Linked DNA regions of Homo sapiens. The protein of the gene in region 2 interacts with the protein of the main gene of each other region in a biochemical or structural test. Each region holds a gene or a part of one and is shown on either strand. Other genes may lie near its edges. The genes, in order: SIGLEC11, TLR4, MBL2 and FGG.

What was found.
Region 1: the proteins of TLR4 (region 2) and SIGLEC11 form a complex in vitro, tested with the Homo sapiens proteins (one study listed by IntAct).
Region 3: the proteins of TLR4 (region 2) and MBL2 form a complex in vitro, tested with the Homo sapiens proteins (one study listed by IntAct).
Region 4: the proteins of TLR4 (region 2) and FGG form a complex in vitro, tested with the Homo sapiens proteins (one study listed by IntAct).

What each region holds. Positions count from the first base shown.
Region 1 is NC_000019.10:49,958,077-49,965,413, forward strand, and holds the start of SIGLEC11 (sialic acid-binding Ig-like lectin 11 isoform 1 precursor), read right to left. Parts: upstream 3,097-7,337; 5' UTR 3,078-3,096; coding exon of another isoform or gene 3,006-3,077; coding exon 2,930-3,005; intron 2,860-2,929; coding exon 2,476-2,859; intron 2,346-2,475; coding exon 2,061-2,345; intron 1,745-2,060; coding exon 1,697-1,744; intron 1,548-1,696; coding exon 1,284-1,547; intron 1,002-1,283; coding exon 954-1,001; intron 825-953; coding exon 567-824; intron 495-566; coding exon 207-494; intron 1-206. UniProt on the Homo sapiens protein: Putative adhesion molecule that mediates sialic-acid dependent binding to cells. Preferentially binds to alpha-2,8-linked sialic acid. The sialic acid recognition site may be masked by cis interactions with sialic acids on the same cell surface.
Region 2 is NC_000009.12:117,699,605-117,707,513, reverse strand, and holds the start of TLR4 (toll-like receptor 4 isoform A precursor), read right to left. Parts: upstream 3,112-7,909; 5' UTR 3,042-3,111; coding exon 2,949-3,041; intron 1-2,948.
Region 3 is NC_000010.11:52,769,645-52,777,271, forward strand, and holds the start of MBL2 (mannose-binding protein C precursor), read right to left. Parts: upstream 3,141-7,627; 5' UTR 3,093-3,140; intron 2,016-3,092; exon of another isoform or gene 2,001-2,015; 5' UTR 1,992-2,000; coding exon 1,805-1,991; intron 1,143-1,804; coding exon 1,026-1,142; intron 1-1,025. UniProt on the Homo sapiens protein: Calcium-dependent lectin involved in innate immune defense. Binds mannose, fucose and N-acetylglucosamine on different microorganisms and activates the lectin complement pathway.
Region 4 is NC_000004.12:154,609,441-154,617,423, forward strand, and holds the start of FGG (fibrinogen gamma chain isoform gamma-B precursor), read right to left. Parts: upstream 3,217-7,983; 5' UTR 3,170-3,216; coding exon 3,092-3,169; intron 2,996-3,091; coding exon 2,951-2,995; intron 2,762-2,950; coding exon 2,578-2,761; intron 2,459-2,577; coding exon 2,365-2,458; intron 758-2,364; coding exon 627-757; intron 324-626; coding exon 190-323; intron 1-189. UniProt on the Homo sapiens protein: Together with fibrinogen alpha (FGA) and fibrinogen beta (FGB), polymerizes to form an insoluble fibrin matrix. Has a major function in hemostasis as one of the primary components of blood clots.

The DNA.
Region 1 (7,337 bases), on a different chromosome or scaffold from region 2:
CTTACCTTAAATAAACAATCCTCCTGTTCTCCATATTGCTCTCTCCGTTCCTCAGTTTCCCGCAACAACTACCAGCCACAGAGCAGGGACTTTGTCCCCATCCCTTCCCACCACGCCCACACCCTCTCCCCACAACCTTGAACCTTCATCTTTCTAGGATCCTGTCTCCTTTCTCCCTGAACCTCAGCCCCCCACAGTCCCCTCACCTGGTAGCAGCTGGAAGACAGAGCCACTCTGGGCCCCGTGGACGTTCCAGGCCTTACAGCGGAGCCTGAGGCCGGAGCTGAGCCCTCCATGGAGGCTCAGGGAGCTGTTGGCCCAGGGCCCGGCTGAGCTGGGGGTGACCTCGAAGGAGCCCTGACTGCTGTTCCCCTCCAGCAGCTCCTCCCCAAGCCACCAGCGCAGAGAGGGGGCCGGGCTGGCCTGGGAGGAGCAGCTGCAGTGCAGACCCTCAGCCTCCCAGGAGCAGGAGGGGCCCAGCAGCTGTGGAGGGTCTGTGGGGAGGGAGGACAGGACTCAGCAGGGGCCCCTTCCTGGGACCCAGGTGTCCCCTTTCCCCCACTCACAGTGCACGGAGAGGCTGAGAGAGACGTGCTGGGAGCCCAGAGGGTGCTGAGCGTGGCAGGTGAACTCTCCTTCGTGCTCCATTTGAATGGGTGGCAGCTCCAGGACCCCGGGGTCTGAGGGCTGGGAGGGGCCCACGGTCTGTCCCCACCGGGTCCAGCTCAGCCTGGCTGGGGGGCTGCTGTGGGTGACACAGACCAGGCGCAGGCTTTGGCCCTCCAGGACCGGGAGGGATGTGCCGTTCCCGAGGTTTTCCAGGACTAGGGAAGGAAGAGGCAGAATCGACGTGCAGCTCAGGGCTCAGGGACCCTCCTGTGTGGGGACCCTCCAGACTCCTGGGCCCCCAGTTTGGCACTGAGAGGCCCTGGCTCCTCTGTCTCCTTTCCTACCTGTCCTGTTTGCTTGGGAAACCATCACTCTCAGGTTCTCTGGAGGATCTGAAATGGAGACAGGGGACCGGCTCTAGACAGACCAGGGGCTTCCCTCTGGGTAAAGGGAACTATCCTGGACACTGAGGTGGGGGAAGTGGGTGGGATAGAAGGGCAGGGCAGAATCACCCACTGAGTCCCAGACACAAACTGCATGAGGGTCTACACAGGTAAGAAGGTCAGTCCCCGAGGCCTGGGGTTCAAGACCCCCTCAGCTCTGGGACCCTGAGCCCAGCCCCTGTATCCCTCTGCCCTCCCAATGGACTCCAGGCCCCTGCTAGGCACACTCACACTGCACAGAGAGGTCCAGGGCTTGCTGCTGGGAGCCAAGCCTGTTCTCCGCTCGGCAGGTGTAGCGCCCTGAATCCCCGGCCCTTACCCCACGCAGCTCCAGCCCCAGGGTTCTGGGGCCCCAGGGGTGGGACGAGGAGAGGACTCTGTCCTGCAGGACCCAGCTCAGCGTGGCAGGGGGCTGGCTGTCAGCAGCACAGAGGAGCCGCAGGAACTGGCCTTTCTGAACTTCCAGATATATGACGTTTCCCTGGAGTTCCAGGGCTGAAGACAGGGAAAGAGAGAGGGTGGGGGTGGAGAGAGAGAATGGGTGGGAGGGGGGGCTGCAAAGAGGACCACATCCCCTCACCCCCCTGAAGCCTTTTCATCCCTAAAGAGGACTGGCCCAGCCCCAGCCCGAAGGCCCTCAGTACCTGACGTGTTGTCATGTGAAATGCTGATAATAAGGTCTTTGGGGGCATCTGCAACAAGATTGTGAGCTGGCTTCAGGGAGGGACAATTTGTTCCTCACACCTGGAAAAAACTCCCTCAGGGAAAAGAAAGTGGGAACATCCCAGGATGGACAAGTGACAACCAGCTCCAGGGCTCACACATGTGGACAGAGGATCAGACGCCATTCCCATCCCCCTCCCAGGGCTGAGCCGGCATCCTGGGACCCCACAGCTTCCTCTCCCTGGATGCTCCTGAGCTGGGAGCCACTCACTGTCCCGCTGGGCTCCTCCACCTCCCCACCCACCGGGGCTGTCTGCACGCCCCACCCTCCCAGGCCACACTCACAGGCCACACGGAGTCGGACGGTCCTCTGTGCGCTCACACCCTTTCTGGAGAAGTCCACATGGCAGGTGAGGTCGGTGTCGTGGTCCTGGGGGCTGGGCGTGAAGCTGAGCACTGAGAAGTGGGAGGTGCTTGGTCTGGTTCTTCTAGGGGAGAGGGCAGCCCCCGTCCAGGAGAAAGAAGGGGCTGGACATTTCTTGAAAGCCCAGTTAAACACACAGATGACCGTCACCGGCTGCCCGGGCTCCAGGGTCTCGGGGATGTAGACATCAGGCTTCTTAGTCAGGGCTGGGACAGAGACCGGGTGGGAGATTCTTGTGCTGCAGGGGTCCCTGAGAGCCCTCTCTGCTCAGCCCATAGCCTGTCCCCAGGGTCCCTCCCCAGTGTGACAGGCAGGGGTTCCCACCCCATTCCATACCTGTTACTTTTAGAAAGAACGCATTGCTCAGGAAACTATGTCTCACACGGCTTCCTCTCTCCACCCGAAAGAAGTACCATGCCTCATCCTCCCTCTGCGCGTCTCTGATCACCAAGGAGCAGCTCCCTTTGCCGGGATCCCCAGTGAGCTGGAATCGGTCCCGGGTGCTCATTTCCACCTCTCGACTCTGGTTGTTAGTGGCCACAGGAGCACCCGTCTTTGGGCTGGTCCGTCCTTTGAACCAGTAGCCATAAGCAGCAGTAGACTCGTCCCAGCCATCCCGGGGGTAGGAGAGGTTGCAAGACACGATGACACACAGGCCCTCCGGCACCGGCACCTGCCTCTGCACTTGAAGACTGTAACTGGGATCCTTGTTCAGGGACCCTGGGGAGATGCAGAGGCTCAGCGGCAGCCCCAGCCCCTGCCTGGGACCCCCAGCCACCGACCCACTCACCCGCCCCCAGCACGGGCAGCAGCAGGGGCAGCAGCAGCATCTCTGGGCTCTGGGGCTGGGCCTGTCCCGGGACCATCTGGCTTCTGGGCCGGCCTGGCTGGGAAGGAAACTCCTCCAGCAGGAAGCCTGGTGGAGGGGCAGTGACCATCCACAGAGGAGGAGCCTCGGGAACCGCTATGTCCTGAAAGCTCGCTTCCCAACTTCTCCTTTCACAGGGGAAGCAGCAGGGCAGAGGGCATGAGGACCAGCCCCAAACCAGGAAGGAGCCACCCTGGCCAGCCTCGGAGGTGGGCAGTGCTAGGAGGGGACTGTCAGGGGACACAGGTGAGTCACGGCTGCAGGTGAGGTGATGGATGCAGAGTCTCATTCATTCATTCATTCTCCAGGGGGCCATGAGACACTGGAAGAGTCTACAAGAACACAGTGATTTATGGTGGGGGCTTTGCACCACGTATTATTGCTGTATCTCCACAGAGGGTAAAAACTAGGTCAGCCACACAGGCAGTCAGCTGCATCTACGTGACCAACCCCCAGTAAAAACTCTGAATGCCGAGGCTCAGGTGAGCTTCCCTGGGTGGCAATACTTGCTGTATGTTGTCACTCATCTTTGCTTCAAGCATTAAGCGCTTTCTGTATGACTTCACTGGGAAAGGACAACTGGAATCCCACATATGGTCTCTTCTGGATCCTGTCCTATGAACCTTTCTCCTTTGTTGATTTTTATTTATTTATTTTTATTTTATTATTATTATTTTTTTGAGATGGAGTCTCGCTCTGTTCCCCAGGCTACAGTGCAGTGGTGGGATCTCAGCTCACTGCAAGCTCCACCTCCCGGGTTCACACCATTCTCCTGCCTCAGCCTCCTGAGTAGCTGGGACTACAGGCGTCCACCCCAACGCCCGGCTAATTTTTTTCTTGTATTTTTAGTAGAGACAGGGTTTTAGCGTGTTAGCCAGGATGGTCTCGATCTCCTGACCTTGTGATCCGCCCACCTTGGCCTCCCAAAGTGCTGGGATTACAGGCATAAGCCACTGCGCCTGGCCATTTTATTTTTATTTTTGAGACAGTCTCACTCTGTCACCCAGGCTGGAGGGCAGTGGTGCAATCTTGGCTCACTGCAACCTCCGCCTCCCAAGGTCAAGTGATTCTGCTGCCTCAGCCTCCCGAGTAGCTGGGACTACAGGCACCCACCCACCACCATGCCCGGATAATTTTTTGTATTTTTAGTAGAGATGGGGTTTCATCATGTTGAGCAGCCTAGTCTCGAACTCCTGACCTCAGGTGATCTGCCTGCCTCAGCCTCCCAAAATGCTGGCATTGTAGGCGTGAGCCACTGTGTCTGGCTTGTTGATTTTTTTTTTTTTAGATGAAGTTTTGCTCTTGTTGCCCAGGCTGGAGCACAATGGCATGATCTCGGCTCACTAAAACCTCCACCTCTCAGGTTCAAGCGATTCTCCTGCCTCAGCCCCCTGAGTAGCTGGGATTACTGGTGCCCACCACCATGCCCAGCTAATTTTTTGTATATTTAGTAGAGATGGGGTTTCACCATGTTGACTAGGCTGATCTTGAACTTCTGACCTCAGGTGATCCACCTGCCTCGGAGTCCCAACATCCTGGGATTACAGGCGTGAGCCACTGCGCCCAGCCCTGCCTTGTTGATTTTTAAAAAGTATTTTTATTAATATGTGATATTTGTACATATTTATGGGGTATATGTGATATTTTGTGCCATGCATAGAATATGGTATAATCAAGTCAGGGTATTTGAATATCTGTCACCTCAAACATTTATTATTTCTATTGTTGGGAACATTTCAAATCATCTTTTCTAGTTATTTTGAAAAATACAATACGTTATTATTATTTTTTAAGACAGGGTCACTCAGGCTGGGCACTGTGGCTCACGCCTGTAATCCCAGCACTTTGGGAGGCCAAGGCGGGTGGATCACAAGGTCAGGAGATCAAGACCATCCTGGCTAACACGGTGAAACCCCATCTCTATTAAAAATACAAAAAATTAGCTGGGCATGGTGGCACGTGCCTACAGTCCCAGCTACTCAGGAGGCTGAGGTGGGAGAATGGCGTGAACCCGGGAGGTGGAGCTTGCAGTGAGCTGAGATTGCACCACTGCACTCCAGCCTGGGCAACAGAGAGAGACTCCATCTCAAAAAAAAAGAAAAAAAAGAAAAAAAAGACAGGGTCTGTCTGTCACCCAGGCTGGAGTGCAGTGGTGAGATCACGGCTCACTGCAGCTTTGACCTCCCCAAGCTCAAGCAATCCTCCCACTTCAGCCTCCCGAGCAGCTGGGACTACAGGTGTGCACTACCACTTAATTTTTATACTTTGTTTTTGATAGAGATGGAGTTTTACCATGTTGATCAGGCTGGTCTCAAACTCCTAGGCTCAAGCGATCTGCCTGTCTCAGCCTCCCAAATTGTTGGGATTACAGGCATGAGCCACCACTACAATATGTTACTGTTAACTATAGTCACCCTACTCTGCTATTAAACATAAGAACTATTCCTTCTATATAACCGTATATTTGTTAGACAGACCTCTTCATTCCCCACCTACTCACCCATGCATCCTTCTAGGGTTCCGATAACTATTATTCTACTCTCTGCCTCCATGAGATCATAGTCCATGATCTCTGTATGCCTTTATGTATCCATAGCTTAGCTCCCACTTAAAAGTGAGAACATAATGGCATTTGATTTTTCATTCCTGAGTTATTTCACTTAGAAATATGGCCTCCAGCTCTGTCCGAGTTGCTGCAAAAGATATTATTTCATTCTTTTTTTATGGCTGAGTAATATTCCATGACAATGGTATACATACCGCTGCCTAGACCAATGTCCTGAAGAGTTTTTCCTAGGTTATCTTCTAGAATTTTTTGGTTTCAGGACTTAGATTTAAGTCTTTGATCCATATTGAGTTGAATTTTTTTTTTTTTTTTTGAGACAGAGTCTCACTCTGTCGCCCAGGCTGGAGTGCAGTAGCATGACCTCGGCTCACTGCAACCTCCACCTGCCAGGTTCAAGCAATTCTCCTGCCTCAGCCTCCCGAGTAGCTGGGACTACAGGTGCCCGCCACCATGCCTGGCTTGTTTTTTGTATTTTTAGTAGAGATGACGTTTCACCATGCTGGTCAGGCTGGTCTTGAACTCCTGACCTCGTGATCCTCCCGCCCCGGCCTCCCAAAGTGTTGGGATTACAGTCGTGACCCACTGCGCCTGGCCTAATTTTTGTATTTTTAATAGAGATGGATTTTCACCATGTTGGCCAGGCTGGTCTCGAACTCCTTACCTCAAGTGATCCACCTACCCTGGCCTCCCAAGGTGCTGGGATTACAGGCATGAGCCACTGCGCCTGGCCAAGGATTGATTTTTGATGTTTTTTTTTTTTGAGACAGAGTCTTGCATCTCGCTCTTTCATCCAGGCTGGAGTGCAGTGGCACGATCTTGGCTCACTGCAACCTCTGCCTCCCAGGTAGCTGGGATGACAGATGTGTGCCACCAGGCCTGGCTAATTTTTGTATTTTTAGTAGAGACGAGGTTTTACCATGTTGGCCAGGCTGGTCTCGGACTCCTGACCTCAAGTAATCTGCCCACCTCAACCTCCCAAAGTGCTGGGATTACAGGCATGAGCCACCACATCCAGCCTGATTTTAATGTTTATAGTTTATTGGCGCTTAATTCAGGTCTTGGTGCTTTCAGGGATGAAGGTTCTGTATGAGTTCCTTGGTTGTAGAGAGTCCTTGTGCGCTGGCTTCTCAGTTGCTGGCTGCAGTGGCAATGTGCTCAGTAAGATGGTGATCAAGTTCATCATCTCCTGTGGGGTTGGAATGGCAGAGGTCTTTTGAAGCTTACCTTGTTCCACTGTGGTGTGCACTTTTAAATTAATTTATTTTTTTCCCCAGTATTTTATTCACTGGGTTGAATCATTAAGGCTTCAGGTTAGTGGGGACGTGTCTCTGGGTAGAAAACAGTTGTGGCTGGCCGGTGCGGTGGCTCACGCCTGTAATCCCAGCACTTTGGGAGGCTGAGGCGGGTGGATCACGAGGTCAGGAGATCGAGACCATCCTGGCTAACACAGTGAAACCCTGTCTCTACTAAAAATACAAAAAAATTAGCCAGGCGTGGCGGCGGGCACCTGTAATCCCAGCTACTCGGGAGGCTGAGGCAGGAGAATGGCGTGAACCCAGGAGGCGGAGCTTGCAGTGAGCCGAGATCGTGCCACTGCACTCCAGCCTGAGTGACAGAGCAAGACTCCGTCTCAAAAAAAAAACAAAAAAAAGACAAAGAAAAAAAAGAGGCCGGGTGTGGTGGCTCACGCCTGTAATTCCAGCACTTTGGGAGGCCAAGGCGGGTGGATCGTGAAGTCAGGAGGTCAAGACCATCCTGGCCAAC
Region 2 (7,909 bases):
AATAGAATGTTTGAAGGATTAAATGAGATAAGGTGTTTAAAGAGTTTATTTAAAAGCCCGCTACAGTATAAGTGATCAATAGATGTCAACATTAATTATTATCATCTATCATTAATCCCTTACCATATGCCTGCATAGTTCTTGTTTGTTATATACTTTCACTTAATCTTCAAATAAGCATTTAAAGATGAGGAAAATGGAAATTCAAAGAAATGAAGTAATATGCGCAAAGTCAGAGTTCAAACATGCAGATCTTCATTCGTATGTCTGCTTAAATGTTGCAAGCCATGGAGCCTCAAAGACAATATTGTCTAATAGAAACAGTGCCAGGCACTCTTTCTTTGCCCTCTTTTATTCCCTTTCACGGGAAGCACAACCATCTAACATTATGTTGTCTATCTGATTGTTCTCATCGTATTGTTCATCTCCTGTATTCCATTGCAAGTTTGATGGGTTTGCCCACTGCTTTGTCTCCAGCACTCAGAATGGTGTCTGGCAAATGGTTGGTGCTCAATAAATATTTGCTGAATCACTAACTGATTGAATAACTGATTAAATGAAGGTTTACTTAAGTCCAAATTGTAGGCATTTCCTGCCAAGTGCTGTGGGCATTACAAAGAAAAATATGATGCAGCTCCAGACTTCAATGGACTCACAGTCTAGAGTAAGAGTTTAGATAGGAGCAAAGCTAACACTATCTCAAGGGGCCATAAAATAGGCTTAGAAAATATGCCCTGTGGTTCAGAGAAAGCAGAGATCAAGTCTGGATTCAGGAAAGGCTTCCCAGAAAAGGAAGATTTTAAAGTGGGTCTTGGAAGATGAGTAAGGTTTAGATATGTGGAAAGGGGAAGAAAAACATGTCCTAAGGAGAGGACAACGTGAGCACGTAAAGAGTGGAAAACAAACTCAGATTAGCTGGTGAGTGGTGGGAGTGGTGAAATCTAAGTAAGAGGGCAAGCCAGATCAGGAGGGCCTCAGACTTTGTCCTGCAGCAATTATTTCAATCATTTATCACTTACACATCTAGCGGCTACTGTGTGCTGGCCACTGGAAATATAGTGGTAAATAAAACCAGCAATGATCCTGCCTCCTTACCGATTCCATTACAAAGGGAGAGAGAGAAAATAAACAAACAAAAATATAAAATGTTGTGCTCTAGAAAAAAAAATATTAAGCAGTATAAGGGGATTTGAGGCAAATAAGTGAGGCTGGAGAGCTCTACATGGGGCAATCAAGGAAGACTGCCCTGAGGAGGGGACATTTAATCAGAGATCTGAATGGAGTGATTAAAGCATGAAAAGGACTTGGGCTGCACTGACCAATACGGTAGTCACTAGCCATACACAGTTATCAAACACAAGAAATGTGAATAGTGTAAATTGAGAAGTGTGGTAAATGTAAAACATATACTAAATTCCAGACTTAGTACCAAACAAGGAATGTAAAAATATCAATAATAGGTAAATATATATTAAAATTTTAAACATTATTTTAAATACGCTAAGTTAAATAAAACTATTATCGAAATTAAATTCACTTGTTTCTTTTTTTAATGAGGCTACTAAAAACTTTAAAAGTACATATGTGGCTCACATAATATTGCCAATGGATAGCACTGATCTAGCATTCTAGGTAGAAGAAATAGCCAGTGCAAAGGCCCTGTGGTAGAAAGCTGTTCTAATGGCAATGGAGAGTTATTAAAAGTTTTTAAGGAGAGTAATTTGTTAGATTGAAGCCTAAGGAAAAATAATAACAACAAATGCAAGTACATAACAAACAAGAACGTGCAGAATGAATTAAAGGAAGAAGACTGGAATCAGGAAAGCAGTTAGTGTGTAAGAGTCAATGCCAGGGGAAATGAGGGCCTGCCTTACAGTGGAACTAAGGGGATGGGCAGGGATGGACAGGCTTCAGGGACTGACAGGAAAAGGTACATGGGGAAAAGAAGTCAAGTTTGGCTGTGGTTTTATCTCGCAGTGAGCCTAATTAGAAAATCTATCTCCATTAACCTAACAGCAGAGGGATACAGAGAAGAGGACAAGGAGGAGGACTATGGGCAGGGAATTGAGGGAAGGGATGGCTTCAAGATAATGAATTAGTCTTTGCTAAATATTACTTGATTTTCTCCTATATCCTCAACTTCAGGACTGCAGCTGGCTTTTTCTCTCTTGAGTTTCTGACCCTGCCTCACTGTAAATCATTTTCTTAGCTGTTCGGCTCTACTATGGGTTTCTAAAGCAACTGTGAAGTCTGCGCAGGGGAAAAACAAAAGAGATCCATCATGAATAAGATTACCAACCAGCTGATTGGTATTTCACTAAGAAAGAAACTGTTGCATTAGCTGACATTATACATATTTCCCTCTTGCTTTTTTCTTCTCTCTCTCTCTCTTTTCCTTTTTCATTCTCTTATTTTTTTCATCCTCTGGACTAAACTATATTACTGCATACAGAAGTCTGACACCCACTTAGAAAGTTCTTTCTCTAGAGACACACACACAAAAGCCATCTTTTTCCTGAGATTGAAAGGAGCAGGGTGACTGCTTGAAGCTGAGTGTAAAGACCACCAGTGGGAAGAAATGACACTGAAGCAGTCTGCTTACTCTCTAGTGAAGAAGGTATTATAATTCTCTTACAGATGCGAAAACTAGTCTCAGACAGGTTTGATAATTTCTTCACAGAGCCACAAGGTAGCAGAGCAGGGACCTTAAGCAGATCTATGTTATCTCATGCCCCTGTTAGCACTCAAAATTTCCAAATGGAACAAACCCCCAATGGCTGCCTCTAGTGCCCTGTAACAATGAATTATTTGATCTCTGTGGCTTCTTGAGTCTTTAAGGTAATTTAACTCTTTTTTTTTTTTGCAAAAATAAACAAACCAGGGCACACAGTGAGAAGTTCTGGGCAGAAGTGAGGGAAAGTTCAGAGGAGCTGACTCCAGCCACATACCTCCACGCAGGGCTCCCAGCTTTCTGGTCTCACGCAGGAGAGGAAGGCCATGGCTGGGATCAGAGTCCCAGCCAGGCGCGAGGCAGACATCATCCTGGCATCATCCTCACTGCTTCTGTGAGCAGCAGTGGCCCTGTGAATGCGTGGCTCGCTATCACCGTCTGACCGAGCAGTTTCTGAGGCACTGGTGTCTTCTCTTCCTCGAGCCGCCCCACAGCAATTGGTGTATTCAAAGCAGTTCTGGGCTAAAGGGTGAGAGGAAGTGAAAGCGGCAACCTTAGCATTCTGGACTTTTGTTTCTCTAATAGTTATCTCTTTTGTCACAGGAGAGGAAGTTAGAAGAAGAAAACGCCTGCAGACCAGTGGCTAAAGAAACAGCAAGAGGAAGCTAGTTGGCTTTTATCCCAATTAGTCATCTGACCTCTGCCTGGGCTTGGTGAATTTAGGAAAACAATCAGGTTCTATTAAAATAGCCCTTGTAACTCTCTAGGATGACGGTGATTTTCCAATTTTGTTTCAGCTGTGGAAACACTATTTGTATTAGTTTGCTGGGGCTGCCATAAGGAAATACCACAGACTGGGTGGCTTAAACAACAGACATTCATTTTCTCACAATTCTAGAGGCTTCCAGTCTGAACTCAAGGTGTCAGCAAGTGTGTCTGAATTCTAATCTCCCCTTCTTATAAGGACACCAGTTATGTTGGATTAGGGCCCACCATAATGACCTCATTCTACCTTACATACCTCTTTCAAGGCTCTCTCTCCATATACAGTCATAGTCTGAGGTAGAGGGGTTAGGACTTCGATATGTAGGTTTTTGCAGGACACAATTTGGCCCGCCCCTTCTTGTGAAGAAACTCACATACAAAACTGAAAATAAACCTCAACTGAAACACAGTTTGAAAAGTACAAGAAGATTGGGAAAAGTCTGGGATTTCAGAATGGAATATACTGAAGTTCAGATCTCAGCTGGGTGACTCATGGCTTTGAGGCATTGGTCAAGTCATGTAAACCGCTAAGCTTTACTTTCTTTCTTTTCTTTTTTCATTTTCTGTATTATGGTAAAATCACATAACATAACATGACATAACATAAAATTTATTATCTTGACCATTTGTATGTGTACAATTTAGTGGCATTAATTATGTTCATATTTTTGTACAATCATCACCACTATTCATTAATAAATAACTCCCCATTTCCCCTTTCCCTAGGCCCTTGAATCTATGCACTACTTTTGTCTCTATAATCTTGACTACTCTAGGCAGCTCTTAGAAGTGGAATCATACAGTATGTATCTTTTTGTCACTGGCTTATTTCACTTTGCATAATGTCCTCAAGGTTCTTTTCTGTGTAGTATAGATCAAAGCCTCCTTCCTTTTTAAAGCTGAACAATATTCCATTGTATGTATAGACCACATTTTGCTTATCCATTTGTCTGTTCATGGACACTTGCATTGTTGCCACACGTTAGCTATTGTGAATAATGCTGCCATAAACATGGTTGTACAAATATCTCTTAAAGTCTCTGTTTTCAATTCTTTTGGATACGTACTCAGAAGTGAGATTGCTGGATCATGTGGTAAATCTATTTTTAATTTTTTGAGCACCCACCATATGATTCTCCACAGCATCTGTACCATTTTACATTCCCACAAATGGTGTACAGGAGTTCTCATTTTTTCACATCTTCACCAACACTTATTATTACTTTCTGGTCTGTAAAATGTGGTAATCACTTTTAATCATAGCAGAAGCTTGCATTTATAAAATGTATTAAAATAAAGATACGCAATGGTAGTCAAATTATACAAACCTACCAACCTTTAGTTTTCTGGTCTTTAAAACGAAGATAATCGCATGTGTTTTGAATTACTGAATTAAGCTAACTTACGTAAAACGTCTAGTCTAGAGCATCATCATTACATTCCATAAATGAGAGCTATGATGAGGATTGAAAATGTGGATAGAATGAAGATGATAATATGTATCTCAAAGTATTGTATTGGGATTAAATGAACTGGCATTTGTAAAGCTTTTAGGACAGTGTCTGGAAAGTAGCAAGTGCAATGTAAGTTTCTGTTAAATAAGAACCTGATTTAAAACAGGAATATTATGCATGCTAAGTCCTAGATAGTTCTACTGTAATATCCTCCAAGCACTTCCAATCCAACGTGTCAAAAACCAAGCTGTGAGGGACCATTTTGTGGTGGACTGGGCACAAACTCTTGTAGACTCCATCAACACACCAGTAGAGTTAAGATAAAAACAACCTCCATGTCAAAGCTTTGCTCTGAGTATTGAGATTATTCATGTAAAGATTTTAGAGCAGTGCCTGACACAGAGTAGGTGCTCAATAAAGTTTAGTTCCCTGGAAAGTTAATGGTGTTTCACTTTGACATAGTCATCCAAGGTGGAAATCTCTTTGACTTTATTTCCCTTACTTCCTCATTTCTCATGCTAAACATGTATTAACCCAATTGTCTTCTTTTCTGTGTTCTTGATGTTCTGGCATCTGGGAAGAGACTGCACTTACCAGGGCTAGTTAGTTCTAAAAAATAGCAAAAGATTTGCTCTGGAGCATGCCTTATGCACACTAAGCAATCCAGAGCCCTTCCTCTGAACCACCTCCTCTACCTGGCTTTTACACCCAAGTAGACACCGTTATTCAGCCCTAATCATCACAGGTCCAGGTACCAGACAACTAGAGACAGACCCTCTACCCCAGAGCCCACTGAGGTTATTCAAACTAGCCAGTCCTATCCCTGCTTACCCTGCCTTGCCTTGCCTTTTCTGCAGTAACAACAATAAAAGCTTGTGCCTATAATTTCCTCTTGCTCCCTCTGCCTCCTGACGGACTCTGGTGCTACCAATGTGGCCCTGCATGGTGTGGCATGCCCCCGCTTCTTAGGAACTGTAAACAACAAACTATATTTCCAGTGGCATCATCTTCTGATCTGTTGTTTTCACCATAGCCGAATAATAAAACCTACATTTTAAAAAATGTTCCACCAAGTTGTAGAAATTGTATCTGTAAAATAATTCCAAAATGTCAGTCGCCATTTCTACTACCATTACTATTGAACATATCCCACGGCCTAGACTAGTTCAATATACTTTAAGAAGCCTCCCAAAGTCTAGATTCACCTCTTTCAATGTACCAGCTCTTCCAATTGATTCTTCATCCTGCTGTTGAAAACATCTTTCTAAAATAGAAATACGTTTAACTCATGTCATGCTAATAATGATTTCAGGCTGGGTATTGCCTAGATAAAAAATCTCCTGGCCTACCCCCATCACATATACACATACAGAAACACTCCACTTCCTAAGAATGAGAAACAAATATGTGGGTCATTTCAAGCCAGACATAACTAGACCCCATTACTGGGACACAGTGCTTAAGTGAATAGAGTAATACAAGTGTGTAATAGACAAATGCACTTTCTTCCCATCATTTGGAGAGGAAACCGCTTGATAGTCTAGATGAGGAACTAAGGAAAAGGGCCCAGGGAAGTCCTTTCAACTATGTTTTCGGAGATGTTAATACATGTGTTTTATAGAAGTCTTCCTGGAAATTTTTCCTATGTGTGATTGGAGAATCCCTGGTGGTGACTTGTAAAGAGGTTTCCTTTTCCTGGGAAATGAATGGGATTAACACTCAATCATTTACTGACCTTAATCAAAGACATCTAGGTTCTATGTTGCTCTTCCAGAAGGCAGACCATGTGTCAAATACAAATTAGAAACTGTAAGCCCCTTGGTTATCAGATCTAACTTGCTTATGTTGATGAACTTACCGATGCAGTATTATAATGAGGTAAGACCGTGGTGATTAGTTACCATTAGGCCTATAATTTCTCCCACAGTAGAATAATAACCACCTCTTGTTTTCTTTTTTTTTACTTTTATTTTTACATTCAGAAGTACATGTGCAGGATGAGCAGGTTTGTTACATAGGTAAACGTGTGTCATGGGGGTTTGTTGTACATAATTAATCGCATCTTAAGCATAGTGGTAGAGATTTGGCCAGAGGCAAAACAAGCCACTTGATCGCCTACATCCTTCATGCAGAGCAAGTTCAACTCAGGACCCATAATCAGTCAGTCAATGGAGGAATCCCATATTTGCCAGGGACCTAGAAGTGTTTGCTTTTATTTGGCAGGTAATGCATATGCTGTAAGAAATATGCACAAAACTGACAAGTGTTAGACTAAGCTAATTGCTGTATAAACTTCCAGATTTTATTGTGACTTAATAAAAGTTTTCCTGGCTCATGAAACACTCAATGAGGATATTTCTGATTGGATTACCCCAGGTATGATTCCTGGTTCTAGGCTTCTTTTATTTCATTATACTTTCATATTCAACATGCAGCCTCCAAGTTTACTGCAGAATGTGAAGAAAGTAGGGGATGATATCATGTATTTAACTACCTCTGCTCAGAAGTGACATGCATTATCTCTGCTCTCATTGCATTTGACCAAAACTAGACCCAACACAATACCAAGTTGCAAGGGATCTCTATCTTCTAAGCTTCAAGGCTCTTCCCCCTACCCAAAACTTAAACACACACACACACTTAATGGTGAGCACCACTTCACAGCACCAATACTATACTGTGGAAGAGGAACACAAAATTCTGTTGATCAGCAGGTTGTATTTATGCCACAACCTTAGAATCCTATAATTTCCATTGCATAGTGATTTTAAAAAAGGTCCCATTAACCTGACATATCTAAAAACCAAACCTCATTCCATCCAACCATCTCAAGTTTTTAAGTTTCATGTTTTTTTCATGTCAACACCTCTCAAAGCAGAATGGTTCTCATATAATTGACAATATAGTACAATTATAATTGGCAGAGTTTTTTTTCTTTCTTAGTGGCAAATAAAGTAATGGTACACCTTATAATCAGTGGTACCTTATATACAACAACAGTTTGTTACTAGGAAGAAAA
Region 3 (7,627 bases), on a different chromosome or scaffold from region 2:
ACTAAAAAGAAATCTCTTGAGGCGTTACTCTATTATGACCTGGTGAAGAGTGACGAAAAAGATTGCAGAGTTTTTGTCTTTGGAGAGGTTTTGCTTTTGATGTCTTTTGTTTTGTTTTTGTTTTTTCCAGGTTTGTTCTGTTAGTCAGGAAACCAAGATTTTTGTGAGTTGCCCATTATCCAAGTGGGGAGGGCATGAGCAAATCACTTGTTGTAGTAGATGGCAAAAATGGCCTCAATAGGGTACAGCTCCTCGCATTAAGACATGAGTCTATTACCCCACTCCTTGAATCTGGGCTGGCCTTGTGACTTGTTTTGACCAATACAGTCTGACAGAAATGATAATGTGCTCTGAGTCTTCAAGAAGCCTAAAGCCTATCTTATTTCTACTCTTGGGAATCCTGTAATCACTGCTATGTGAACAAGCCCTGTTGGATGATGAGAGATGTGGTTCAATTACCCTCATCACTCCAGCTAACATTCAGACAACAGCCAGACACATGAGTGAGACTATTGGCCATCAGTTGACCACAGACATGTGGGTAAGCCCAGCTTAAACCAGCAGAGAAATCACATGGCCGACCCACAGACTTGTGATTTAAATTGACGGCTATGTTTTTAAGCTATTAAGCTTTGGCTTGGTTTCTTATGAAGTAAAATATGACATACCATGGTTACATGCTTTTGTAAAAATAGGTATAATAAGCCCACACTTAGATGGCCTGTTTTCTCCCTCTAGGACCAGGGCCTCACATTAGACTGTTTCAGCTGATGGAGAATCCAGGCTCAGCTCTTACAGGGAGTGCCTGATGAGGGAGTTGTCTTGAAAAGTTTGTAAGTCTGTACTCAGGCACTTATAGGAATTCCCTAAGGCTCTAAGAATGAAGAGAGGGCTGAGGGCACTGGGTCAGAAAGCAAATTTGGGTATCTTCCTTTGAAGGAACAGGAGAAGGGGCACCTCTTACCAGATACTCAAGGTCTCAGAACCCTGGGTGAAGTCAGCTCAGACCTTGCTGGGGTCCTTACCCGGACTTTTTCCAGGGTCTCCTTTTTGGCCCTTTGGTCCTGGTGACCCAGAAGGCCCTGGATTTCCTGGAGGCCCCAACTTTCCAGGGGGGCCCTGTAAGCCTCTGAGCCCTTGGCCTGTTGGAAGACAAAGGAAATGTGACTTAATATCTATGTTCTTGCTCTCTCTCTTCAAGAGTTTGATGCCCAATCCCTTCTCAGGAGAAAGGAGACCTTGACCCAGGACTGACCTTTCTGAGCACTGCTCTCAATAACTGTATGGTGGGCACCTGAGAGCAATAACTTAAGAAATAAAGTTGCCACGTGGAGGTTGCTGCAGGGAGGGTGCAAAGTGAAAATTAACTGCATTTGTTTTTACCAGTAGTTGTTGTTCTCCTGTCCAGCCCACTGCTGCTGGATCTCCCTGTAAACAGATTCCCCCAGTAAAACCTATGTTTGTTTGCTGACTCCATCTCTTCTTTGGCCTCTTGAACCTGGTGCCATCCCTACTGAAGTGAATAGGGGTCTGACATGACAATGACCCAGAGAAGAAAAATTCATCCTGTGTCCCACGGGATGGCCTGACCTGTGGGCCACTTTCCTGGGCTGGCAAGACAACTATTAGTCACAAACTGCTGTGTGGAATTCTGAGATGCCAGAGAATGAGAGCTGAATCTCTGTTTTGAGTTACAGTATAGTTGAGAAAAATATACTCAAATAGGACATCAGTCTCCTCATATCCCCAGGCAGTTTCCTCTGGAAGGTAAAGAATTGCAGAGACAGAACAGCCCAACACGTACCTGGTTCCCCCTTTTCTCCCTTGGTGCCATCACGCCCATCTTTGCCTGGGAAGCCGTTGATGCCTGGAGAGCTACAGGCAATCACTGCAGGGCAGGTCTTTTGGGCATCCTCACAGGTCACAGTTTCTGAGTAAGACGCTGCCACCATACTCAGGAGAAGGAGAGGGAGTGATGGAAACAGGGACATGGTCCTCACCTTGGTGTGAGAAAACTCAGGGAAGGTTAATCTCAGTTAATGAACACATATTTACCGAGCATGCCCTCTGTCCTACAATCTGGGTGCAGGCTATATAGAAATAGATGACCCATCCCTGGCCTCTAGCTGGGGATTTGGAAAAGTAAACATTCCTTGTGACACTGCGTGACTAGTACTTTAACAAAGGTAGGCACTATGATGAGCAGTGGGGATCCTAAGGAGGGGTTCATCTGTGCCTAGACACCTGGCGTTGCTGCTGGAAGACTATAAACATGCTTTCGGTGGCAGTGAGAACAAATGGGACCGTGCATTGCCAGCTGGCTTATGCCTGTTAGCTTAGGGAATGAGAATGAGTGGAAACCCAGGTGTCTGTAGGAGCTTCCTCTTTCTCTCCATGTCCTCTTCGGGTCCATCTGCCACCTGAATCCCATCTTTGTATCTGGGCAGCTGATTCCCCTCCAGGACCTGTTAACTATCATTTACTCATTGGCAGGCCCTGAGCTGAAAGCTGGTGATCCAAAGAGGAAGGTCTCAACCTCAGATCAACCTCAACCTTAGTCACCAACCCAGCCCAGAATTAACTGGAGTTTGCTTCCCCTTGGTGTTTTAGACAGGCTTGCCTGGGTAAGCATTTTCTCTGGAAATTTCTTACTACGTTGGCCCTGGCAGAGTGCTAAATACCTCTCTACTTTCTGGCAGGAATTCCCCATGTTCTGTGAGTCAAAAACCACTGGCAATTAGAAAACTTGCCTTGAATCCTCCTCCCATTTCTCAGTATTAACCTTTCATTTGTTCTTCAGAGCTTTCTTCCAGCTATTGCCCCCTAAGAAACCTCAGCAGCCTAGCCCCATAGGTCTAAGCCTCCAAGTTTCCCTTTGAAAACAAAGACAGTCTCCACTGCAGATGAACAGATAATGGAGGAAAGTCACAGATGCTCCAGCACAAGCAGAAAAAGAGACATCCTCAACCTGATTTCTGCTTTCCATCCCACTCCCCCCACCCCTAGAAAGCCTCCTCCATGCCTCCAGGGTCATGTCAGCTCCCCAAACCCTTGATCCGGAAACCCAGATTTATTCACCAGAAATGACTTACTGGTGTTTCTGCAGAGCAGGGACTCAGTGACAAGGACGCTGGCCCTCTAGCCTGGGGCTCTGGCAGATGCCTCAGAGTGAGGGAGGAGGCTGGGCTCAGCAATGTAGGGCCCAATCAACCTTGTGAACAAGGATATCCTGGGCCTGGCCTTCAACTCCAGATTAATAAACAGCTCTTCTCAGAACTATGAGAAATTTAGGAGCCTCCAATACAGTGCTCGGCAGCTGTCTGCTTTAATACAGCACAATTCCTCTTTCAATTGCCATCCATTTTGGCAAATCTCATTGCTGAACTACCACAGCTAGGTTCACCTAGTTAGTCCTGTTGACATCCTTGTTTCCAACAGAAAAACAAAGATACTCACAAATGCATACACATGCTCATGCACACCAACTATACACACAGACACGTGCATGCACGCACACACCCATCCATGAAACCACATAGACCTCTTGCTGCCATTAATGCATTAAGGCCATTCCTGCCTCAGACTCTTCATTTGATGTCTCCATGCCTGGACCCCTTACGGGCATCGCCAGCTAGCTCTTTCTCTTCTATTCAAATATTCCAATTTCAGAGAAATCAGTACCTTGATCACTTATTCTAAAATAGTCCTACCTAGCAGTCTCTATCCTCTTAGCCTGAATTATTTTCTCTCATGTTACTTACACTTTATGATATTATAGTCATTGACTTTACTTTTCCAGTTTTTCATTGTGGTAAAATAGACATAAAATTTACCATTTTGACCATTATTATTAAGCACACAACTCAGTAGCATTAAGTACATTCACACGGTTGTGCTATCATCACCACATCATGGGATGATTTTCATCATCCCAAACTGAAACTCTCAACTCATTAAACTAGAATTCTCCATTTACCCCTACCCACAGCCACTGGTAACTTCTGTTTTACTTTCTGTCTCTCTGAATTCATCTATCCTAGGTACCTCATATATGTGAAATCATACAATAGCCCCCTTGTATCTGGCTTATTTCACTTAGCACAATGTCTTCAAATTTCATCCTCATAACAAGAATTGTAAACTGTGTTAAAGACTTTGGGTTTCCTTCCAGGGGGCACTAGAGGGACTGCAGTAGTGGAGAGGTGATCACATTTGAATTTTGCAAGGCTTGTTCTGGCTATGATGTTGAGGGGAACAGGACTGGAGAAAAGCAGATCTAAAAGGAAGTGCTTGCCATGATCTAAGCAGCAGAAGACAGTGGCCTGGGTCAGGGTAATGGCAGCTAGATTAAGAAGGTAGGCACACTTGAGAAACAGGAGGTATTGATTGCACTTGAGAATTAGCTAGAATAGTGAGTGATAATAAGAAGTTTTCATGGGCACACACATTTATGACTTGACTATCTAGGAGCCACTCAACTGAGATAAGAAGCAAAAGAACAGCACTTGGCACTATAAGATCATGGGTATCGTGTGTGTTAATGGCTTGAACCATCTTGCTGTGGTTAATGGGGACAATCTAGAAGGGATGGAAGAATACTTTTACGAACATAGTTCATTTGATTCTCAACTACATTACTGATATGGCTTTCAGAAAAATGCCATGTAGCTTGGGGTGTTGGGGAGCCCATCCTGAGAAGTTCAGAGGCTGCGGGGCCATGTGGTGGGGGTACTATGGAGGCCTCCAAACACCAAAAGAAATGTGAGTAAGATGCATTTCCAGGTCCCTTCCAATTGAAGTCTTCTTGGCTTGTGGAGGGACTGGCTTCCTTACTTCCTGCTGACCTGTCTGCTGTGCCTGGAAAAATGTCCAGGATGGTACAGAGCCACATGCCTAAAGCCATCAGTGGATATCAGGAGATCCAGGGCCTAAAGAAGACAGGGCCTGAGAAGACTTGTTTCCCTTCTTATTCTTTAGCAGCCAGAGCTTCCCCCTGCTCCTGCTCCAGTGGCAGAAGGTGAGGTGAGGTAGTTGACTCCAGGTCACTGGCGGTGCTGGCTTTAATCACAGTGCTTGCTTTCATTGTTTACCTAGTCCAGAGGTCAGGAAACTGCTCTCCAGACCCTGAAATTTCCTAGAACTGGGTTCAGAGGGTGTGGGTATCTGGGGGAAAGTCAATCTAGCAATTGATCCGGAGATTGGAGTGTCACCCAGTTACATCCTGCTCTCCAGAAGGCCTTTCCCAAAAGGAGAGGCCACTCTCCACATGCCGCAGCCTGAATGTCTCTCTCCACACGAATGCCCACTCTGCACTCCACCCCATAGATAAGGCCACTGTGTGCATTTGTTCTGGACTTTAAAACCCTTCCCAGCCAGGCGTGGTGGCTCACTCCTGTAATCCCAGCACCTTGGGAGGCCGAGGCGGGCGGATCATGAGGTCAGGAGATTGAGACCATCCTGGCTAACACAGTGAAACCCCATCTCTACTAAAAAATACAAAAAAAAAAAAAACAACAAACTAGCCGGGCGTGGTGGCGGGTGCCTGTAATCCCAGCTACCCAGGAGGCTGAGGCAGGAGAATGGAGTGAGCCCGGGAGGCGGAGCTTGCAGTGAGCTGAGATTGCACCACTGCGCTCCAGCCTGGGCGACAGAGCCTCTCCGTCTAAAAAAAAAAAAAACTTTCCACTTTCCTAACACTGCTTCCATTCTGGCAGCGCCACAACAAATCCACCTCACCCCAAGAGGCTGCAGAGAAAACTGCCTCTCTGACCTGCAGGAGGACTGCCTGGTGCCCTACATCCCCTTTTTTGTAGACTAGGGTGAAATCCCAGCTCTCCCACTTCCCAACAGTGTGACCTTATTCAAGTTCCACTGCCTTCATGTCCTCAGTTTCCTCGTCTGGGAAAGAGGGCACCGCTGCCTTGGCTGTGGAGTGGTGTGTCCTTAACTGGTCCACATTCAGAGTGCATGGCACGTGGCTCACCATGACAGCCTGCTTAAGAAAGGCCTTCATTCCCTCCAGGGTGACTGTTCAAGAGTCTTCTCAGCTTGGGAAGCAGTGTTCTTGGGTGGCTCCATGTGAGAGGCATGGTTTGAGATTGGAAACCAGAAGGCTTGGTTTTGTCTCATGAATATGAGCTTAGATAGACCCCATATTCTGGCCGAACCTCAGTTTTACATCTTTCAAATCAGATTTTGAACCTCATTCCCTTTTCCACAGAGCTGCTGTGAGTAGGACAATAGCAATGAGAATGTTATTGCTCTCCAAGTGAGGACCATCAGGAATATGCTTATAGTCAGATAAAATGGATTTATTATTTTTAGTTTCTTTTAACTGTTTGTTCCAACAGGGATATTGAGCACAATGGTGTACCCTAGGATTTCTCAGTAACAGGGTGTCGGGAGGGGATTTCTATAAGACTTGTTTTGTTTTAGTTGGTTTTGGGGGAAGGGGTTTAAGAAGCAGGAGTCTGTTCTGGATAGGGTGCTGTCCGTAAGCTGGGCAATTCTGTGATTGTGCATCTTAACTTTTATTTAGGAGATAAGTAGAACAGAGCAAGGCGAAGCTGTATTTTGTAAAAGAGTGGCAGATGTTTATATTAAGCAGGAGAGGGGCATGTTTTTCGTTTTTGTGGTTCACAGAGCAACCTTTTCTGTCTATATGAAGACATGATTTTGGAATGATTTGGGATCTCACAACAGAGTAATATTGTTGTACACCGGTATTCTGTGGAAGTGTTTAGGGTCAGCAGGGAATACCATGGTCTGGCCATGAGAGACAGGCTGTGAGAGACAGCTGACAGCGGTAGGCTGCTTTCTTGTTGTCAGCAGTGTCCTTTGTAACCCTAAGGCCTGACCTTCCCATACTTTTCATCCTGTACTGTCCTGTGTTCCAGTCCTGCTATTTTTTCTTTGCTTGTTTTTGCTCATGAACTCTCTGAGAATGTGTAAATGTCACAGGCCTTCTTTTTAACCAACACAAATACACAGGCGCACTGCATCTGGCAAGGACTACCTTAGGCCCCTATAGCCATGGGGTGGGTGGTCAGAGGGTGTCATATCTGCCCATGTGATAGAGACATGCTTATCTGTGACATGGCCTTGAACACAGGGTGGCTGCAGTGAAAGGCAGCTCAGTAGTTAGGATAGCAAAGACCTGCTCTTTTGCCACAGAAATCAGAACACATGTGGCTTTCAGACTCTCCTCAGACATTCCTTACTGCCATTCTTCCTTCTGCCCCTTCACTCCCAGGCCTGGTATATTCCTTCCACCAGCGTCCTCCCTCTGGGGCAGCTTCCCTCTCTAAAAAAAAAAAACAAGAATTTCCTAGTGGGTGACCATCATTGATAGGTTTCTGGGGCCAGGGACACTTCTTGTCCAGGCCCATTCTCTGCCTCTGCTTTGGCTCACCTGGTGACCTAGAGCAGCATGTGTCAGAGGTGACCAGACAGGCTACACCCCCAAAAGGAGGTTGCTCACTGCTAAGATAAAGAGCAGGCTGAGAGGGGCACGATCAGCACAATGGAAAGATAAGGACCAGAAGCACACACTACTGGCTGCAAAATTATTGGAAAGGAATACCAGTAATTTAAAATAAGTATAATCAATATCCATAGAAAAATCAGT
Region 4 (7,983 bases), on a different chromosome or scaffold from region 2:
GGGCAAGTTATTTAACCTTGTGTGCCTCAGTTTCCTTTTCTGTAAATAGGAGTAACAGAAGTACCTTCCTCTTAGGGCTATTGCAAGGATTAAATGAGCTACGGTTCACAAGGTGCTTAGAAAAGTATCTGCCATATGGCAGAAACAATGTAGGAATTTATTAAATACACATGGTGGGGAAAAAATTACCTTCTGAAACACAGTCCATCCATTTCCAGACCCATCGATTTCACAGTAGACTAAGAATTGCTGGTTAGCTTTCAGAGGTTTAATAAAGTAAAGCCCGCTCTGTTTAGCTCCCTTATTGGCAATGTCTTGACAATCTAGAGAAGGAGAATCGACTTTTACTGTGGTTTGAAATGCAGGTAAGACTGTGCCAGCCTTGAAAAATAGCTTTTAACATGTAGTAAACTATTCATTTTCCAAGAATAATTTTCTTACTTTTCACATCAGCATTCCTTTTAAACTGTTTTTTTTAGCTATTCAAGAAAGGTCTAGACAACTGAAATTCTTAGACTTAATGGGTAGCCACTTTCTAAACTATTCCTATACTTTCCAGTACATACTTTCTCCTTTACATTACTTACTTTGATGAACCTAATCCCAATATAACCTTCATCAGTTACCTTTCCCAGTGATATCATGGATTTGCACCGTGTCTTTGCAAGGTTCCTGGCACTGTGCTTCAAGCTGGGCTACCTTCTCTTTCAGGTTAACAATCTTTTGATTATTTGAATTATATATTTCCTGCAAATATCTACAAACAGAAACATAAGATAACAAAAATAAGAAGACAAAAATAAGTATTCCTTTCAGAAGAGTAATTTTATATTTTCTTTGGAAACTGCTAAGTATTTTCTTAAGAAGTGCTTTCTGATAAATTATTCCATTCTTGAGGAAAATGTAAAATTATATTACTAAATTAACATGAATTAAAATTATAAACTTTTTGAAAAAGAAAAACAAATCAAAAAATCAATTAAAACAGGAATACAATGTGGACCTGAATCTTTTTACTTAGAATGGGGCATATTGTCTCAACTCCCAACACAAATAACAAAGTCCTTGTCAATAAGCAAATGTCATTGACATTTTGCTTTTTACTTTATGCATAAGGGACAGCAGATAGCAACCTGCAAGAGTGGCGGGACTGGTTAATAGGAACACCCCCTGATGCTTTAGAAGCAGGAAAAGCTCAGTTCAGTAATTCACATGTGCTGAAGGAGTATACCTTTCACTTGTGGATCTACTGAGGCTATACATATAAGCTTCAATCTAAAATATAACTTACACAGGGACATGATCTGGAACGTTATTGTATGTAAAATAAAACAACAGATACTTCCCCTTTCTTCTTTAATGCTTCTGGTTACATAGCTTTGGGAATGGACTGGGGGAAGTAAAAACCCTCCTTTTGTAGTTACTTACAGGGTGGCTTGCAAATATCCAAAAATGATAGAAAACTGTCTACAATGCATAAACCGTTCTTTCTTTGAAGTAAAAAAGGGTAGACAAACTATTTGTCCACGTTTTCCCTCTACCTTGTCTTAGGCAATTTCTGTACAATAACCTCCTTCAACTTCAATGATGGACAATAATAATGCAAGTAATAATAATAACAATAATAACAAGGGCCCTCTGATAGCAAAAAGAGGAGAAATCTTTCCTGGGCCACTTCTCCCTAGCTACTATTTATCTCAATTTCTCAAGCTGCTTTGAGAAAAATTCAGAAAAAAAAATTGGGGAAAAATATTAAAACTGTATCTGAGACCTTATGTTCAGAAAGTTTATGAGTCCCTGAGAAGCTTTAACAGAGACATTCACTTCCAAATGAAGGGAAGAGACTATGCAGGTTCATTCTGCAATGATCAATATGAGCTTTGCAATATTTGCCACACTTAGTCTCTCAAGACATGTTTCTTCCTGCTCCACATTCAATATAATTTACTTTAGGAGCCAAAATCCTTACTATGCCTCTGCTTGCTAATTTTTTTAACCACCAATTTGTCAGCATTTTTATAAAGAGGATTTTATTTTCAACACCCAAATTCCTATGAGATTGATTTTATGTTGTAAGATAAATGGGGGATGGGGAAAAAATTTTTGATAAATATGGTCAAACTAGCATTTGAAGACATCTAGAACATCTTTCTTCAATGTGATTATTAATAAGCAATTATAACCCAGTATAATTTATATTGCACTAAAAACTTCTATCTCTACTATGCTCAACATAATCAGGCATAATGTCACTGGGATATTATAAATGGGGAAAACACATTAAAAATTACTTTCACTCAAGTATAGAATATTAAATAAAAACTAAATCAGTCTTGCAGAGCAAATTAAAACAAAAATCCTTACCGAATACTTGAGTCATGTGTTAAAATCGATGCTTCATATTTCATAATTTCTTCTAACATTTTCCTGGACTTCAAAGTAGCAGCGTCTATCATATCTGTAATATAGGATCAGAGACATAAAAATCCTTAAGCAAATAGAACAACTAAAACAACAGCAAAAGAACTTCACAGATTATTATTATTATTTTTTGGTCAGTAGTCTTTATTTTCTCACTTGGTTTTGATGATTCATCAGGATTATAAGTGAGTTGGATTGCTTTTATCAGCTGTTTGACTTCTGATGTTTTGTTTTCAACTTGATGTAAGATGTCTTCCAAAGACTGTAGATCCTTGTCTACTTTGGTTTGATAAGTAGACAGGAAATCTGCAATGCCACAGGTAGTTGGACAATAACTACCCTGAAAATATAACAGTGATTAAAAATGTAGACAGATGCTACTCTTAAAATCTATTAAGAAAAATAGGTAAAACCTAGACTATGTTTTTAAAAAGTTACAAGTGCCAGATGATATTTATGAGGGAATTATTTCTATTCCTCTGCCCCTCTCCAGTTCACACACAAAGGGAGAAACATAAAAACTACTTACGAATCTTTCATCTAAGATGCAGCAGTTGTCTCTGGTAGCAACATACTAAAAGAGAAAAAATACAGAAATTTCACTAGTTTATTATCTGTTTTATTTTCCAGCTTTCCATTTTAAACAACGTTTTGTGAAGAGCACACTTACTGCTACACATGTTGAAGAGAGAAATAAAAGAGCATAGAAGTAGAGAATTAAATTCCGGGGGTGCAAGGACCAACTCATGATGTCTGAGTGCCCGGAGCTCCGAGCCTTGTAGTGTCAGCACTGTCACCTCTCAGGCTCCAATTGTCCCTTTATGTAAGCTCCTGGGATAGCCAGGACTGCAAATGGCTGGAGCTGATCACGGGGCCTCCTTACCAGAAGGGTGGGCAGGTCTTTCCCGTTCCTTTTTCCTCATCCTGGCCCCCAACCTATACTGTCAGGTTCCCAGATTTTGCACACAGGTTGAAGCTCCTCCTTTTTGGCCCAGCTCAAGGTTTTTTCTCTGATCCAAAATTATCTGCAAAGGCTAGTGAAGCATTATCCATTGCTGTGAGGAGGAGGGCAGTCCTGGAGGCTGTGTGATGCAACTTCTTCCAGTACATGGCTGAGAGCAAACAGATATGACCTCGAACTAAGCAAACCTAGTCTATCCTTAAGATGGGTCCTGCTGCCATCACCTGAATTACCAAAAGAACTTTCTTAGCTTAGGGATCAGTTAACACTATTATTTTAGCCTAGGGATCAGTTAACATTATTATTTTTAATCTGTGGCTGTGGCAGGAGGAGACTGACTTCCCCCATGTCCCAGTTCACTATTCCCAGGAATGAATGACCCTGGAAATACATTCCTGTCCCTCTGTGTCAACCATGTTCATAGGCTCTCACTTCTCAGGGAGCTTTTGAGCTCAATCTTCCCTTTGTCTGAAGGTGGGCATGGCACCCCATCTGCCACAGAGAAAAGAGCCAGGAGCCCACTTCATTGTTCCTGTGGTTCCATCAAGCTATCTCAGAGAAGAGAAAAATCCACCTCCCTTGTATCTAAGGAGAGTAGAGGCATAGCTGAAGGAAGGGGCAAAATGAGGTGCTGGGGAGGGGCCATCATTTCTGTTTGGCCCTTACAGCATCCTTGTGTTTGGGAAAACATGTCTGTCATCACTGCCTATTGAGATTTATCACTGGGCGTTACACTATTATTAATGTCTCTATTTTTGGTTATCCCTCATTTCTTCCTCTGGAACCAAGCTTATTATAAGTTTTGATGAAATATGTTAGTGGGAGAAATGCCTCCAGTTTGAAAGAAATACTAATACTTTAATTCTGTCTTTACAAAGGTATATTTATTGACTCAAAAACAAAGATAAATATTCATATTCAGTAAATAATCAATAATTATAACAAAGTGAACACATCAAAACCAGATTTGTTGCTTTTCTTCTCCTCCTTAATATATCCCTCTCTGACTTAGCAGTTATTGTCAATCATATCACCATACCACCAGCCAATTAAGTCTCACAATCTTTCTCATCCATCTTTTCCACTCAGCTAATCAGTTGTCAATCAAGTCAGTTGAATTAAACATTTAAGTATTAGTATTCTTTCAAACAGCTCTACCTCAGATAGCATTTGTAGCAACCTTATATTATATGTATACATGCTGTATCCACTGCATTAGATTGTAAACTGATTTCTGTGGCTACGGCATCTAACATATATAGCTGTACTTAACATAGTTGTAGTTAACACTCAATAACTATGTAATGACTTGAATCAGTTGCCTCTGTGAAGAAGAATGGGATGCAGAGGTGGAGGACAGGATTGGAAAAAAAGGCTTTATTTTTCTCTGTAAACTTTCTATATTTAGAATGTTGAATGTATATAAATATTATCTACTAAAATATATATAATGAAAATATGTAATTATTGATCATTCACAAAGATTTACATAGTACACTGATAATTACATCTTGCTAACTTTTTAATATGATTTGAACATGAAAGGTGACTCAGGCATTGCCTTTGCCTTCAAGAAGTGTGTAGCTCAATTGGAGAATGTATAAATAAATAGTTGTTAAGGCTCTGGAGTCCATCTCCCTAGGTTTGAGTCCCATCTTTACAATTTACTGGCTGTGTGATTCAGTACAAGTTACTCAATCTCCTTGAGTTCCATTATCCATGTCAGTAAAAGAGAGATAATACTTATGATATGGTATTTACTTAATAGGGCTATTACTAAGATTTAGTGGGATAATGTGTTGAGCACATTACCCAATTCATGGTAAGTGTTAAGTAAATGTTTGTAAGGTTTATGAATTACCAAATATATTTGGTATAAAATCTATGTAAATAGGAAACTCTTTTAATAGAGCTATTATTGGTAGATTTGGTTCACAGGGAACAAGCTTTGTTGTTCTAGCTACAGAAATTCTCTTTAATAAAAAATCTGTTGCAACTAACTGCAGTCTCCTTCTGTAAGATTCCCCAGAGAAGAAAGCACCTGGTCGTTTAGTTTAGGAAATTCTATCCAAATTGATTTTACCAATCAAAGATCAAATGATAATATAAATGGATTGCATGCCTTGTGAGAAGGTATACTTCCTATCTGTAAGAATGTTCAAGCAAAGTGTGTTTAGACAGAGCATGTCTTTGTGGTTCTTTTTGCTGAAGACCATAAAATATTAGTTTGTTGAATTTAGGGTAACAATTCATGCAGCCACAGGTTGGGTTCTGAGCTCCTTAATGTCATAAAGTTTCATTGGTTGTGTTAAGATATATAATATTCACAAAGTTGATAAACATTTAAATTGAGGACATTAGAAATTCTATCTTATCCCATTTTAGAAGTGGAATACTTGTATTACAGGCTTTTAACTGACTTATATTGGAATCCAGATGTGTTATCACAATTTTAGAGAAAATAATTTCCTTTTACTACAATCTCAAGTCCTAAATCCAAATCATATAAGACAAGATGCTTGCTCTCTGAGAAAAAAAAATGGTCAACAGTGATTTAGCGGTCTACATTGGCCCTGCATTCAATCTAGTATCACTTAGGTTTATTAAATTTTAACTAGTTTTTTCATGTTTGGGCCAATTTTTTCTTTGAAAAATGATAAATGATTGATGAATTCCAGGAATGAAGAATGTTTCTTAAATCACAGTTCTTCTACTTCCAGGTATGTTTTTTGAGATAATAGCATAGGTAGTATTTAAGCCAAAATAATCATTTACTGTAACTCTGAGGTCAGTGGGCTTGTTTATTGAAATAATAATGTCCCAAATTCCCTATCGTCCAACCGTTTGTGTTCTGATTTGAAAACACAAATCTACAGCTAACAGTCTTCGTGTATATTGGTAATTTACTCTGTGAGCCAAGTCTGTTACATTCATCTTTGCTCCAAAATTATTTGCTGAATTTAAATTTGATTATGTAGAAGACTTCTTGACCTAGTGACAAATGATATAGCCCTAAGGAATAATAGAAAGAACTACCAATTTTGAGCATCTTCTTTATGCTAGATATTATGTGGTAGTATAGTTTTTGTTGTCATGTATATTCTCTCATTTAATCCTCACCACAAGCCTAGGAAGTAGATATAATTACCTGTATCTTATAATGAAAAAAGAAAGGCCTAGAGATGTTGTGTAACATATGCAGGGTCAGTGTGCCAGAACAGGAACTCAAACCCATGGGGCCCAATGCCTGTGCTCTTAACCATGAATCTTAATACAACCATGAAGCCCTTCTTAATTTAAAATAATACACAGATACAAGGTGTTATGAGACTCAAAGTTATTCACTGATAGAATGGATTTTAAAGATGTGTGTGTGCATCTACATAACTGTGTGCATGATTATTTGAACACACATTTACATCTATCTACCAACTTATCTATCTTCTTCTCTGGGTTAGAGACAAGATTTTGTGAATGATCTTTTACAGTCTTTGAGTATTTCTCAAACCTAGATTTGTGTTGTTTTATGATTAGCTTGTGTTTATGGTCCTTTTTTTTTTTTCTCTCTCTTTAGAGATGCAGCCTAGCTTTGTTGCTCAGTCTGGCCTCAAACTGAACTGCTGGGCCCAAGTGATCCTCTTGCCTCAGCCTCCTGAGTAGCTCGGACTATGGGCACGTGCCAATGCACCTGGCTTCAGTCCAATTTTAGATGGAAGCAGTTTTTCAATGCTAACTGCATGGTTCAAGTTTAATAGGACTTGATAAATTGAATTCCATCAGTAAGTTAAAGGGAGAGACAGCCACTGCGTGGTCAAGGAAGCTCAAATCAATGGCGACAATGATATATCTGTTTTTCTAACAAGTAAACCATTTCTAGATCTAAGCTAAATTTATAGCCTGAACCCTCAGAACTGGATTTCCTAAAAACTGGCAGAAAGAAAATGACCTATTGGCATACTGAAAGCCAGTCCAACCTAATAGTAAAAATATCCCATTAAGGGCAACAGAGTTGTCTGTTAGAATATTTGCTTTGTGTATAAAAATAGCCCAGGGAAAGTGAAAACGCAAAAGTTTCTTGGTAGTCTGTGAACAATGTGCTTTTAGTTTCACTATGTAAATCAAAGACAAAAACAACATTGGGCACAAGTAAAATGGACTCCCTCACTGGCAGCAGAACAGCACCCACAGGTTGAGTTTTGCACTTCTTAACTTCATAAAGTTTCATTACATGTGTCATTTGGGGGATCTGTCCTAGCGGCAGGGATGTTGAAAAATCTCTGCTGTGATTGGAATTTAGGAAATAAAGTACTGGGTGCCTAGAGAAAGAAGGATTATCCCATTGGCAATTACAGAGGCCAAAGAGGCTGGAAATTAGCCATTTTTAATACTAGTTTGAGACTAAGGAATGATCTGAGGTGCCCTGGATTGAGACAAATTGAACAGAGAAGTTGGATTTAAGTGTTTTGCTGTGCCACATTGGTATCTGCTACTGGTTTGTTTGTGTTTTTCCATCTTTGTGTAATCTACGATTTTAAATCTCTCACCCCATGAAAGAATTTTCATGACTAAATATGATTAGCAGGAGATTTACAAGAGCAAAT